Regions from separate parts of the Homo sapiens genome. Here region 2 is linked to region 1. The links come from fine-mapping of genetic effects on gene expression. A gene starts in region 1. The other region holds a variant in brackets. All regions are shown on one strand. Distances are between the middles of the regions.

Evidence for each region. PIP is the estimated chance that this variant, and not a neighbour inherited with it, causes the effect.
Region 2: its variant is the best candidate, but not a certain one, in a credible set for the expression of AUH in whole blood (GTEx, PIP 0.54).

What each region holds. Positions count from the first base shown.
Region 1 is chr9:91,359,657-91,364,048 of GRCh38, reverse strand. AUH (AU RNA binding methylglutaconyl-CoA hydratase) reads left to right here and starts at 2,131. Exons shown (of 10, transcript NM_001698.3): 1 at 2,131-2,421. The coding sequence starts at 2,160. RefSeq lists a silencer at 1,961-2,400.
Region 2 is chr9:91,152,678-91,157,069 of GRCh38, reverse strand. The region is part of intron 1 of LINC02937 (long intergenic non-protein coding RNA 2937); the gene reads left to right. The region is part of intron 2 of LINC00484 (long intergenic non-protein coding RNA 484); the gene reads right to left. Among named protein-coding and RNA genes, the nearest start is that of LINC02937, 8.4 kb to the left of the region's middle. The variant C/T (reference allele first, on the strand shown) is at 2,496.

The DNA of each region.
Region 1 (4,392 bases):
GTATCCATTTTGAATATGTTTAACTTTCTCATATGAGAAGCAGGGCTCAATCACCTTTGATACAGTTTCCAGTTCTCTGCTTCCTCCCAGTTCTTCAATGTGATCCATCCAGATATCTGCTTAATGCAACTGCTTCCTGGTGACCATCTCCCTATGGGACAGGTAAATGCAGCCTGCTTGACTCACCTGTTGACCTCCATAACCCACATGGACTGTGTAGATGGGCTCCAGTGACCACCTCACAGTGACAGGGTGACTCCATGGAACTTGTGCCTGCTTGTTCTAAACTCACCAATTAGAACTTCCATGGGAAACTGCTTGGGTAACACGCTGGACCCCAACAGAGGCTTTAGCTCCACAAGTGCCCCTTCCTTGACCCCCTTCCACTGGCTGAACTCCCTGTCACCTCCAGATTTACCCTCCCTCTGGTGACCACAAGACCAAATTAGAAAGAAACCATAACAATAAAAATCACAACACCCAGCAGTCAACATGTACATCATTATCAGAAAAGAGGAAAGATACAAAGGAAGCAAAGTTTTCCTTGTAGTAAACTTCAGGAAAATTTTCCTGCATGGAACTTTACAAAAGATAGAATAAAAAGTGGGCTGTGCATGGTGGCTCACACCTGTAATCCCAGCATTCTGGGAGGTCAAGTTGGGTGGATCACTTGATGTCAGGTGTTCAAGACCAGCCTGGCCAACATAGAAACACCCATCTCTACTAAAAATACAAAAATTACCCAGGTGTGGTGGTGTGTGCCTGTGATCCCAGCTACTCAGGAGGCTGAGGTGGGAGGATCATTTGAGCCTGAGATGCAGAGGTTGCAGCGAGAGGCGATCACACCACTGCACTCCAGCCTGGCCGACAGAGCCAGAACCTGTCAAAAAATAAAAAATAAAAATAAAAATAAAAGTGCCTTCAACATCATTTTACAGCAGATGCAGTAATGGAATTCAGTCTACTTTTTGTTTCTACATTGGATAAAAGTTGAGGACATAATGAAGGATGTTTTGCTTAGGACTAAAAAATACAAGAAATTTCTGTGGCACTAGACGTATGCTCATAGCAGCACACTTTTCAAACAGTATTCTTTTTTTTTTTTTTTTTTTTTTTTGAGACAGAGTTTCACTCTTGTTGCCTGGACTGGAGTGCAATGGTGCAGTCTCAGCTCAGGGCAACCTCCGCCTCCCGGGTTCAAGCAATTCTCCTGTCTCAGCCTCCCGAGTAGCTGGGATTACAGGCGTGTGCCGCCACACCTGGCTAATTTTGTATTTTTAGTAGAGACAGGGTTTCACCACGTTGGCCCGGCTGGTCTCAAACTCCTGACCTCAGGTGATCCACCTGCCTCGGCCTCCCAAAGTGCTTGGATTACAGGCGTGAGCCACCGCCCCCTGCCCAGTATTCTTAAATGCAAGCTTTCCCATTAGAGATCTGATAAAAGCTAGGTAGCATTAATTATACTGCAACGTGCTTTGATGAGTACCTACACACTAAATTGATATCCCGAGTTTCTGGAAGAGCTACATACTCTAAATCCCATCTCAGCGTATGGCTTGTTTGAACCCCTGTAAGACTCTTTCCGTCCAGGAAGGGCCATGGGACATCGGTACGAGTGGGTGGGCTGGAGAAAGAACTCCTTTGCCTGTTTGCTGTTCTCATCCTTTTCCTGAACGCCACGTAGTAAACATCATTTATGCTTATCAGGGACGCTAAACCAACAACCTGAGATCCATAAGTAAGGCAGTGACCAACGATGGGCTGCCACACTTTCAGCCAACTTGAGGAGACAAAACTTTTTTGTTCACTTTTGCAGCTTACTTAACACAGGACCGCAGGGCATGGTCCAGGGAGTACGGGGAGATAATTCCCTCCGGGTGGTTCTTATAGAAAAGTCTTCCCTGAATTATTCCATAACCTTGGAAAACTACTTTCTTTCCTTTTGTATTGGACAAACCATCCAATCTCGCTTGGAGAATGGGGCAAGGCCTCGGGTCACCGGGCTTCGGCGGGGCAGTGAGGGGCGGGAACACGGCTCCGGAGGGCGGGGCCAAGCCGGAGCGAGGCGGCGGGTCCGGACGCCGTGCGCGTGCGCGCGGCAGGTCGGCGCCGGGCGGGGGCGGAGCGGCCGTCGCAGGTCCACGCCGTAAACAGACAACATGGCGGCCGCGGTGGCGGCGGCACCTGGGGCCTTGGGATCCCTGCATGCTGGCGGCGCCCGCCTGGTGGCCGCTTGCAGTGCGTGGCTCTGCCCGGGGTTGAGGCTGCCCGGCTCGTTGGCAGGCCGGCGAGCGGGCCCGGCGATCTGGGCCCAGGGCTGGGTACCTGCGGCCGGGGGTCCCGCCCCGAAAAGGGGCTACAGCTCTGAGATGAAGACGGAGGACGAGCTGCGGGTGCGGCACCTGGAGGAGGAGAACCGAGGTGAGGTGCGAACGCTGGGCAGGCGCGGGGCAGCGGGCGGCCGCTCGCTCTCAGGACGGGCATAAGGTGCAGCGTCCGCCGGCAGGACGCGGGGTCGAGGTCAGGCAGGCGCACCGAACCTGGGTCCCTCCCCTTTCTCACCTCCCTACTCACCCAGCGTGGCCGCTTCCTTGTGCACCTATTTCTTGCTTTTAATAACCTAAACGTGTACCCCCGAGCAGCTTACCTGTAAAGTGACCGCATTCAGCGCGGCAAACAGAAGTGCAGCTTACGCCCTCCGCTCCAGACAAGCCAAGGTCAATATATACCCTGGGGATTTAATCCTTGCTACCAGGCTTTATTGTTGCTGTGTAATGGCTTTCTGTAAACTCAGCTATTAGTGGTGGAGTTGTAAAAGCTGCGGTGAAACTGCCTTTTATTATTACGGAGAATCTTAAATTTGAAGCTGCTCAGCTGGAACAATTTTTCCTCTTGTTCATTTTCTCTTAGAAAGTTAGTCTTGAGGGACTGTTCCACTTCATTTAAACAATTTTGAGCACTTTTTATTTTCCTCAGCTCTGGCGATAAGAATGTGGATGGTATGGATCTTGCCCTTGAGCTACCTTCTACGGGAGGAGACATCATTAGCAATACAATACAGAGCTTTGAAGGCTTTGAAGGAGGCTGACAATCCTAGGGAATACTGTTACAGCTCAGTTCCTTTCACTGGCAGTGCAGGGAAAAGCTAAAAGGGTCGTGAAGGGTGGAATAGCAGTTTCCACCCTTAACCTCCGGGTTAAGCCAGAGGACCAGTGTTTTAATTTTGACATGCATTTGTTGAGCACCTATAATCTGTTAAGCAGAAGTGAAAAGCGTGTAAGTCGTGATTGGTTTTAGTGTAGTGAAGCAGATCCTGGTTATTAGTAGGCTGTGTGAACTTTCAAGGCATGGTAAGAGGAAAGGGCTGTAATACCTGCAGGGTTTCGCCATTTGAAAGGGGTTCCAAGGCATTCTTTAATAGGCAGTGGATTTTGCCATTTGTGAGGGTTCTTGGGCAGACTTATCTCACGTGTAAAACAGGAAAAACAATACCAACTTTATAGGTTTGTTATGAAGATGAGATGAGATTGTTAATGTAAATTGCCACTAGCACGTAGCAGTGCTTCAGGAGTGTGATGAATGACTTTATTCCTTACTTATTATTCCAGACAGAGACAAGAACATGGTCAAAGGCATGGAGATGTGAACATGTGTGGTGTATTTGGGACGTAACATAAGGCAAGTGTGGCATAAGCAGAATAGTAAGAAATTCAGCTGGAAGCATAGACTAGCACTGGAGTGATTAGAGCCTGAATGCCATCATCTTTTGGGTAAGCTTAGTCATGCCGGGACTTCACTTCCGTTAAGTGTACCAACAATATGTTAGATATAAAGGGATTGCAAGTACAGCTACTAATATGCACCATATTCTATTTTTTTGGTCGTTATGACTTGAATGCAATTAAAGGAATATTTGTGCAGAATGTCTGGACAGACTTTAAGTTAGGATCTGAATGGACAGAAGAGAGAATATCAGATAATAAAAGATAATAAACGAAAATTTTTTTGGGTATCATGGTTTCTTTTTTTTTTTTTCTTTAGCCTTGATTTCCTGATGAGATAGGACATACATCATGGTTTCTTAAAGTTGACCCCGCCTCCTTTGAGAATTGGCAAGAATGACGACTCAGGCTTGGCTAACATTACCTAGGCTTTGCTTTGCTTTACTGTTGAACCAGCAATAAGCAGTGCAAAGAAAAACATGAGGTCAAGGGTACTACAGGTGAAGGAGTTTCCTGGGTGCCTTTATTTCTCTTAGAGGTGGGTCCAAAATTTGGTGCTCTCAGCAGCCTCTAAGGAATAGGATAACTCTCCTAGTCACAGGAGCCTCAAACAGCATGCAGCACTTTAGGTGGGTGGGGGTAAGTAGTGCAGAATACACCAGGTCTCATC
Region 2 (4,392 bases), 210 kb after region 1:
CTTCAGGGGTGGAGCCGAATAGTGGTGAGCTCACAGCAGAGCCTGAGAGGCCATCTAGCCCTTATAGATAGTTTCCTCAACCCTTGGCCTAGGCCTTGTTCCTGCCAGCATCTTATGGTGTGGTCACCAACCCTGATGTGCCTGTTCATGTCCTTGTCAGGAAAGTCCCTAGGCACAAGTGCCTGTGGTAGAAAATGCTTTTGGAGGCCTGCTTCTTTCCTGGAAGTCACAGAGGAGGCCGAGGATCCATGGGATGGAAAAGATTAAAAGATGATTTAAGATCAAAAGTCCCTAGTGATATTGGAAAGGCCCTTCGAGGCCACCTGACATTATCTTGCTTGTTGATGGGTGAAGCAAGACCCCAATAGGGGGTGGGTGGTGAGTCCTTTAGGTGCCGGGTGAAGGAGCCGGTGGAAACCTGGGTGAAGCCGGATGGGTGCCACCTCCAGTTGTTTTTGCAACAGGGTGTTTTCCCAGATTGTAGGTGTTGGTGGGATGGGAAGGCCCAGAAGTGAGTTGTGCAAACAATGCAGAATTTTGTCCCCTCAAATTAACACTTGGTTTTAGTTGCAATATTTAATTTACTGTGCAGTTTTCAAATAATATTAAAAGAAGGCATGGGATTTGTACATTAATCAGTGGGAAGCATAGAGTTAAAAAGACAAGACAAGACTAAGAAATGCTGCTCTATTTTTCTGCTACTCAAAGCGTGGTCCACAGACCAGAGGCATGAACATTGCCAGGAGATTGCTAGCAATGCAGAATTTCAGCCGGCCCCACTGAGTGAGAGTCTGTATCTTAACAAGGTCCCCAAGTGACTCGCAAGCACAGGAGCGTCGGAAACCCATCATTTCAGTTACTTTTAGGCTTTGGTGTGTCTTGAAATCGCTTGGGAGGTTTCAGAATTCTGAAGCCCAGGTCCCACTTCAGAGCTCTGCCTGGGGAGAGGCCAGGTGTGGAGCCATCTGAGGGTCTCCAGATGGTTTGAACGTGCAGTGGAGGGTGAGAGCCTCAGTCAACACTGGCCTTGTTTTTGCTCTGAGTTTCACAGCCCTGAGCCCCAGTGTGCCATGTTCCAGGTAGAGTCATCTAGGAATTTGCTCCTGAGTCAGGCTGCTGAAGCCCACTGTTTGTTCCCTCTCCCTGGAAGGGTGGAGATCCAGCCCTCTCTGGATTCTCTGAACCTCTGGTGAAACTTTTGGAAGGTGTGACAAGGATTCTGACTCCAACTTCCATGGCCAGGCACTTGCATGGCAGTGAAAGAGCAACAGGATTTGGTGCTTCCCCCACTGGGTGATGCAGGAATGTTCTGGATATCAAACAGGGAGTTAGCTTACTGAGACATGATTTTCAAATCCATGAGCAGTATGCTTTCTTTAAGAAACACTTGTATAAATTGCATTACTGTGAGGAATGGTTCTCAGCACTTTACAGATATTAGCTCATAAATAACATGACAGTCCTGTGAGGTGGCTTTACAGCTCCACCCACCGAGAAGTGGAGTCAGTGTTGGTCCCCTTGATTCTGGGCCTGACTTAGTGGCCTGTCCACCAAAGTTACGGTGGAGTGATGCTACGTAACTTTCAAGGCCAGGTCATGAAGAGGTGACAGCTTCCTGCTGGCTCTCTGGAATACTCCTGGGCCACCGTGGAAGCAGTCTGACTGCCCTGATCGAGCATGGCCACCATGCTGCAAGGAAGCCCAACCAGCCCACAAGTGGAGAAGTGCTGAGGTACTGAGGTGCTAAGTGACTGTGATGGGCAGAGCCCCTGAGATTGGCAGGCCACTTGTTCCTGCATCAGATCTGGTTCGTCCTGACCAATGGGCCTTGTTTGTCATGGGAGGGGGCCACAGAAATTGGGGCCCCAGTGTAGCTGGTGTTATTCAAAGTCTGACTGGCTGAGGCCCCCTGAAGTCAGGGTAGACCCTGGGCTCTGTGCTCTCCCAGCTGCCATTCATGCTACACTTTTTCACCCATCCTTGGCCTCAGGTAGGGTCAGAGGCCTTCAGGGTGTCCACCTTCCCTTCTCCCCAAACACCTGCTGAGCATCCCACTCAGCCACACCACAGAGCTGCAGTAGGCTTAGGGGACTTTTCTGCCTGGGTTCCTTGTGGTCAGCCAAACACCAACTCTGACTCCTCATAGTGGGAAGGGTGGGATGGAAGCCAGGGGATGTCTGTTGGCAGGCACACAGCTCTGCAGGCATCTGCCAAACAGACCTTATCTGACAGCCACTATTGGGCAAAATGGTTCTCTAGACCTCAAAATATGCCCAAGAGGGGATGCCGGGAGTCACCAGCACCCAAGAGAGCACCCCGGGGACAGGGCTTCAGTTGTCGGTGAACTCCTGTCCCTTCTGCCACTGAGTCCTCCTCAACTAGGGCAACCATAGCCCCCGGAGACAGGGTGTAAGCATCTTAGCAGTGCGTTGCAGTGGAGCAGTGATGTAAATATATAAGGGAATATCTTAGAGACAATAGCATTAGAACAAGGC[C/T]GAGCCTTCAGTTTGAGACAAGGACTGGATGCACAATGGGCCCTTTAACAACATAGGTTTGAACTGTGTGGGCCACTTATATGCAGATTTTCTTCCACCTCTGCCATTCCTGGGACAGTGAGACCAATCCCTCTTCTTCCTCCTCCTCGACCTACTCCACTTGAAGACAGGGATGAAGACCTCTATGATGATCCGCCCCCACTTGGTGAATAGTAAATATATTTTCTCTTTAATGATTTTCTTAATTATATTTTCTTCTTTCTAGCTTACTTTACTTTAAGAATACAGTATATGACATATATAACATATGAAATATGTGTTAATTGGCTATTTATGTTATCAGTAAGGCCTCTGGTCAACAGCAAGCTATTACTGTAAAGTTTTGGGGGGAGTCGAAATGTATACGAGGATTTTTGACTGCATGAGAGTTGGTGCTCCTAACCCCTGCATTGTTCAAGGGTCAACTGTACTTCGAGGTACTACAATTTTAGTGATTAATTTGTCTTTCTTGTTGGTGCTTTATTGTGTGGGTTGATTTGTTTTCATGAATATGTATTGGTAAATAAAATAAAAGAGTTTTAAAAAAGGAAAGCCTAGGCTGGGTGCACTGGCGCACGCCTGTAATCCCAGCACTTTGGGAGGCCCAGGCGGGTGGATCATGAGGTCAGGAGTTCAAGACCAGCCTGCCAAGATGATGAAACCCCATCTTTACTAAAAATACAAAAATTAGCTGTGTGTGGTGGTGGGCACTACTCAGGAGGCTGAGGCAGAGAATTGCTTGAACCCGGGAGGCAGCGGTTGCAGTGAGCCGAGATCGCACCACTGCACTCCAGTCTGGGTGACAGAGCAAGACTTCGTCTCAACAAAAGCCTGTGTTAACTGCACCCATTAGCTGTGTGCTCTTCAGCAAATAACTTACAAGGGGCCCTCCACCTTTCCCTACTCATTCCCTCTGAAACTGCATTTGCAAAATTTATGACAGTGAGAGAAATCTGACTTAGTTGATTGCATCTTGCTTCTGACCTCCAAGCTGTCCTTGGTCAAGGCAGCATGGGCCAAGGTAACTTTAGGAGGAATATAGTTTATAGTTTAACTTAAAAGCAAGGGTAAAAGTAAATCCCTCCATAAAACTAACCCCCTCCTTGCTCAGGGACCAAAAACCGCCTTTGTAAGACTAATGAAGGATGACAAGATTAGAATTGTGGGAGAGGCCTGAACTCTGCCTAAATGATGGCATAATTTCTATAATCCCTTACTGCTCAGGGGTCATGTGGCCAGAGGTCACAAGATTTGTGACGTTCCCCAATTGCTCCTGTGGATACATCACTATTGTAGAACCTAAGATTGGTTTTATCTGATTTTTTTCAGACTGACTTCACCTGGACCCCTGACTCATAACTCAGCTGGTCCTGTGGTTCCACCCAGAGGTGGACTCAGTGCACAAGGATTGTTTTCCACCCCTTTATGATTTCCTCCCCAGCTAATCAGCAGCACCCATTCCCTAGTCCCCCAGCCCACCGAATACTTGAGTAATAACTTCATTTCTCCTGCATGGGCCAGCCTTACGTCAGTTAAACTCTTTCTCTGTTGCAATGCCCTGGTCTCAGTGGATGGATTTCGTGCAGTGGGCAGGAAGAACCCATCAAGTGGTTACACTTTTACCTCAGTTCCCTCCAGGACTCAGGAACTCCTCTCTGGGCCATTGTAAAGATGAGAAATAATACACATACAGCCTGGAGCTCAGTGTTATTTGGGCAAGGTTGTGGGTAAATGTTTGTAGGTAAAAGATGGGAATCAGATCTACCCAGACAGCTCTTCATGCATGCACGTTGGGGAGACAGAAAACTCACCATCCAGGGAAGGCTTTCACCCATGTGATGACTTATTTTATGAGTCA